Linked DNA regions of Homo sapiens: region 2 is linked to region 1. The links come from fine-mapping of genetic effects on gene expression. A gene starts in region 1. The other region holds a variant in brackets. All regions are shown on one strand. Distances are between the middles of the regions.

Region 1 (2,910 bases):
ACCTTTTCAATCTGAAGGTTTTTTTCTACCTTGAAATTTATCTCCATTATATCTTCAAATATTTCCCCTTCTCTGTTTTTATATTTCTTCCTTTCTGTTCTAGTTTTACCCTAGATATAAGCTAGAAAATTTACAAATAAGCTAACTTGTTTTTTAAAACATTTTCTACTGCCTCTGGAGGTTTGCTGAAAGTGCTCTTCCAATTACTAATTCATCGTCAGCTGCATCTTTTAGACTATTGCACATTACTAATACGTAGCATCAATATTCATTCTAATTATTATTTTTATGCTTAATATGTTTTAGTTTCATATTTTTTCCTGATTCATATTGCTAATATCATAACTCATTTTAAATAAATTTATCATGCTTATTTAAAAATCTTGGTCCATCTGCTCTACTGATCAGTTTCAGATGGCATATGTTATTCAGTTGTGGTCTTTTAACAGTAGTTGCACTCCTCCAGTGTCTAATTCTTTGTCCTATGAATTCATGTTCCCCTGGGGTTTCACCTACTCTGTCTGATAAACATGCATCCAGGAAGGCCCAGTGAGTTTGCAGTGGGAGGGTGGTGTGAGCCCAGAAGGAAATCGCTGGCACCAGAGAACCACTGTCTATCATTCCCAGTTTCTCCCACTTACCCAGATCTTTCCTCCAGTCAGGTTTCTACCCTTAGGGAGAAGCAGCACCTAAAGGAAGCAATTAACCTAGCAACCCTAAGGGTGGCAGGGGGAAGGGTAGAGGCTTGATTGAGAGGAGGTGGGGGGAGGTCGGCCTGCAGTTTTTTTTGTTTTTCGTTTTTTAAATTCCTCACCCCAACAGTGCTTTTGCGCTGGTCTGACACTACCTGGAAAACTATGCCACCAGTCGCTTCAGTGGACACTACCATTTCAATTGCGAAGTCAGGCAATGATTGTCCTAAGGCAAGGTGGGAGAGAAGTCAGAGTAAACCACCTCGAGAGCGCCGGTCTCCCGGAGTGTCTGGGTTCGACTCCTGCCTCCACAACTTACTGGGTCTCCTCGAACAAGTTGCATCACCAATGGCCGTGCCTCAGTTTCCCTCCTCCGTAGATTAGGAATAACAATAGCAGTGAGAACAGAATCCAGCACACAGTAAATGCTGCTTACCTGTTTGCTATGTGGAATACGCCACTACACTGTTGCTCGGCCCTCAGGAAGGGTCTGCTGAGACTTTCTACTTCCTGCTCAGGGCAGAGGCCGACCACCCGCCCAAGGTCGTGGCGGCGCCGGCTCAGCTTTAGTCGTCAAAGTGCACATCCTGGGAGCCGCTGCCTCGAGGTGGTTGAGGCGAGAGGGCAGGGAAGCGTCTGAGCCTCTTCCTCCCACCAGAGCAGGACCCCAGCTGACAGCGGGTGAGCTGGGCAGAAACCCATGCCGGGAAGAGGCGGACCCAGTGGACCGCAGCGCCCGCAGTCGCCGGGCCAGGCGCAGAGGCGAACGGGAGGCGGCGCTGCACCGTGCCCGCCCCTCCCCGGCCCGGCCCCGGCTCCAGCCCCAGCCCCAGCCCCAGCCCCGGCCCCGGCCCCGGCTCGCGGGCGCTGCGTCTCCGCGTACAGGAGGCGGCGGCGGCTCCCAGTCACCGGCCCCCGCCGGCGAGCGCACGATGCACTGCCTGGGCGCCGAGTACCTGGTAAGCGCTCGCAGCCTCGGCCCTCGGGGGAGGAGCCCCGGGGAAGGGTCGAGTCCCCCGCCTTCACGCACCTTCCCTGCCGGACGCTTCCGCCTTTCCCGCGCCTCGGGGATCCCGCCCCCGCTTAGTACCTTGGGGCCACCTGGCGGGGAGGAACCTGGACCCTGCTCCAGTGCTGGGGCGGAGGCGGGGGAGACGCGGGCCGCGGGGCGCAAACTTGGGGTCGTCCTCAGGTGCACCTCCAGGTAAGCACTTGGCGGCAGGGGGCTTAACATCCGCTCCGCGCAGAGCAGGTGTTTCAAAGGCTGTGTGAAAGAGCTTCAGGTGGCCACGTAAAAAAATAATATTAATTTTAAAAATTTAGAAAAAGATTGGTTACTTTGGCCCCTCTTCGAGTAGATTTGGGTTCGGTTTCCAGGTTGAGTCCACCTGTTTATCTTCTTTTTCTCAACTCTCCCTTTTTCTGGAAGGTTTCTGCAGAAGGAGCCCCTAGGCAAAGGGAGTGGCGACCCCAGATTTATAGGAAATGCACAGATACGGCATGGTTATTCCTGTTCTTTCTCTTTTGGACTGGTTTGGTAAGTGTGGGTGCTTGGTAGGAAAGAGGCCAGAGTGTGTGTGCACGTCTGGAAATAACTCTGTCCCAAATGTAAATCGTAGTTGGTGCTGCAGTGAGAGACTTCTGCCGTTAACCCACAATAAACATCAGTTTGTACTCGGGAGAATTCTTGTCCTAGACTCGCTAGAAAGGCTGTCTTTTTGCTACAGGCCATGTTCTAAGGGGTGACTCCATTAGGAAATGGGAATTAACAGTTTGCAATGTGATTGCTATTTAGTAAGGCCAATGTGTCTCCTTTTACTCTCCGAACTTACTGAACAGAAGTTCTTTTAGCACCTGCCACACCCCCAAATCAAATATTCCTCAAGCTTTTGGTGCACCTTTAACAAAGGAAAAGCCAGGGTAAGCCTAGAAATAAACTGCATTTCCTTTAGCTGAACATCACACACACACGCGCGCGAGAGATATGTTGTGTTTAGCAGCCAACACTGTTAACCATAGCTAACAAGGAATGATTTTTCCCACTCTAATTTCGAGGTATGTATGATTGCTGGTAAACTCCATCAGGCTATGCGGTTATAATCCTGAGAGAGTCTGTTGGAAGCCGAATCTTGCTGCTTTTATACTTATTTTAGAATTGTAGGTAACAGCAGAAAACGTCTCACCCGACATTTTCAAAGGCCACTTTCACGAAATCATC
Region 2 (2,910 bases), 20 kb after region 1:
AAAACCTCATCAGAATCCCAGTACCACTCATAGGAGATGAAACTGAGGCTTAGAGAGGTTTAGGACTTGGCCAGTGTTGCACACCTAGGAGAAGAGGTGGCAGAACTAAGACTCAAACCCAGATCTGTGTGGTCCCAAAACCCACCTTACTAAACATAACTCTGATCTAGATGCAATCCTGATTTCCTATGTCGAAAATAGTACATACAGCTTATTTCATGGTTAGGATCTTAAATTCTTCATTTTAAAGACATTATTAATCTTTCATATTTAATAAGAGTACCTTAGAACATGTAAAGTTAGAACTTTACATAAGCCCAGTATGAAGTCAAAAGATTTAAGTATGATAATTTTAGATGGTTCATTTGGACTTGTAAGAAAAAAAGATTTGGGCATTTGAGAATAATATTGCTATAAAATTTTTTTTCTTTCTTTCTTTTTTTTTATTGAGACAGAGTCTTGCTCTGTTGCCCAGGCTGGAGTACAGTGCCATGATCTTGGCTCACTGCCAACCTCTGCCACCCGGGTTCAAGCGATTCTTGTACCTCAGCCTCCCGAGTAGCTGGGATTACAGGTGCCCGCCACCATGCCTGGCTAATTTTTGTATTTTTAGTAGAGATGGGGTTTTGCCAGGTTGGCCAGGCTGTTCTCGAACTCCTGACCTCAGGTGATCCACCCGCCTCGGCCTCCCAAAGTGCTGGGATTATAGGTGTGAGGCACCATGCCCGGCCAAATTTTTTTTATTTTTGAGAAGAATACTAGGACTTTCAGAGACAGGCTTACCACACTTGATTGAATGGTGCATCAGAGACTGCCCCACGTATACCTTGTTATTTTTATTTAGTGTTTAGTAGATATCCCAAGATATTTAGAGATTGAATACAATCCTCAGCCGTCACTGTTCTGGAGGGTTTTGTCATCGCAGTACTACCATCATCTCCCCTATCCTTTGTTGCTATTGAGGTTTATGTGTTTTGCTTAATTTTTCAGCCTTGTCTTTGGCCATGATGTTTACCTTCAGATTCATCACCACCCTTCTGGTTCACATTTTCATTTCATTGGTTATTTTGGGATTGTTGTGTAAGTATTTCTCTACTTGACTGATTTCTTTTCGATTAAATGAAAAGCCTTTACATTAAGTACAGAACTTAAAAGTTGGCATTTTTAAGCTACATGGAGTCTTAAAGAGTATCTAGCCCTGTCACTTTACAAATGAGAAAACTTGGCCTCAGGGAGGACGATGGGAGTTGCTATGTCTCACAGACAGTGCAAAGTTAATGACCAATCTTTTTTTTCTTCTTTCTTTTCTTTTCTTTTTCTTTTTCCTTTTTTTTTTTTTTTTTTTTTTTTGAGGCAGGCTCTCACTTTGTTGCCCAGGCTGGAGTGCAATGGCGCGAACGCAGCTCACTATAGCCTCAACCTCCTGGGCTCAAGCGATCCCCCTGTCTCAGCCCCCCAGGTAGCTGGAATTACAGGCACATGCCACTACACCCAGCTAATTTTTGTATTTTTTGTAGAGACGGGGTTTTGCCATGTTGCCCAG[T/G]CTGGTCTCCAACTCCTGAGCTCAAGCGATCCGCCCACCTTGGCCTCCCAAAGTGCTGGGATTACAGGTATGAGTCACCACGTCCAGCCATATCTGTAGTTTCTTCTGCTGTGCTATGCTGCCCCTGAGATGAGCTTTCCAATACCGTGATCCTGTATCCATAACGTTAAAAGAGAATCCCAGTACCCACTGGGAGCATTTTAAAGGATTTCTTCTGAATGCGCACCTCACCCATTGGCACGTGGGTGCCCACAGTTGTCATGTAAAGGTTCTGACCAGCCAGAAGACACACAGGCCTGCATGGAAGCAGAGTCCTGGAGACCCTGTACTGTGCCCATATTTCCCTCCCGGTTGCTGGATTGTGGATCTCACCAGCAGTTGTTGGGAAAGAGGTCCGAGGGACAAGGGCACGCAGGAGGCTCAAGGCAGCAGCCATTTACCAACTGGTGTGGGGTACAATCAGGTGTCACTTAATGACAGGAAGGGATGTGTTCTGAGAAATGCATCACTCAGCAATTTCCTCATTGTGTGAACATCACAGGGTGCACTTACACAAACCTAGATGGTAGAGCCTACTACACACCCAGGCACATGGTATAACCTATTACTCCTAGGCTACGAACCTGCACAGCATGCTACTGTACAGAATACGGTTGGCAGCTGTAACAGAATGGTCAGTATTTGTGTATCTAAACACATCTAAGCACAGAAAAGTACAGTATTATTAATCTCATGAACCACCATCATATATGCAGTCCATTGTTGATCAAAATGTCATCATGCAGTGGATGACTATATTTTAATTTTTAAAAACTGATGTGATTGTCATGTTTCTTTCCCCTGAGTCATCAGCTCTGCCCTCAGCAACTTAGAGCCCTGTAGCCCTGTGTCGGAGGACAGGCACAATGACTTCTGAGGGTTGTTTCTTCCTGTCCACTCCAACCTTCCTATAGTTACTGTGGATATGGCATAAGGTGGTATTTCGTACCTAAATGTGGAGTACTTGCAATGTCAGGGCATCTTCCAAATGAGCTTCTGACTTCCATGATTCCCACAGGCCGTGTAAATTTTCCTGGTTTTGTGGGTGAGCAGCCAATATCCAGGCTCCACAGGAGTTATCACCACCAGAGCTTGCTTAAAACATTTAGACAGTGAGCTCTGGCATTGTCCCTCTCACCATCCTGTCCATGGGGTTTTCCTCCTGCTCGCATCCAGACCCAACCTGTGGGTTAGGTGCCTGTGTTCTGGGGTCACCATCCTGGGTCTCCCAAAACAAGCATCATCCCAGAACTTGTGGGTCCTCTATGGGTTGCCCTGGCTCTGCCCAGCTTCTCCAGAGGGCAGCAGTTGCTTGTAGGGTCCGGGTA

Evidence for each region.
Region 2: its variant is fine-mapped to the expression of SLC44A3 in lung (TOPMed, PIP above 0.99). The same link has a PIP of 0.9 or more in amygdala.

Annotation. Positions count from the first base shown.
Region 1 is chr1:94,818,828-94,821,737 of GRCh38, forward strand. It overlaps SLC44A3 (solute carrier family 44 member 3), which reads left to right and starts at 1,530. Exons shown (of 15, transcript NM_001114106.3): 1 at 1,530-1,651; 2 at 2,122-2,229. The coding sequence starts at 1,625. It overlaps SLC44A3-AS1 (SLC44A3 antisense RNA 1), which reads right to left and starts at 1,405. Exons shown (of 6, transcript NR_160780.1): 1 at 1,129-1,405. RefSeq lists a silencer at 1,534-1,723.
Region 2 is chr1:94,838,958-94,841,867 of GRCh38, forward strand. SLC44A3 (solute carrier family 44 member 3) reads left to right here. Exons shown (of 15, transcript NM_001114106.3): 7 at 991-1,080. Among named protein-coding and RNA genes, the nearest start is that of SLC44A3, 20 kb to the left of the region's middle. The variant T/G (reference allele first, on the strand shown) is at 1,544.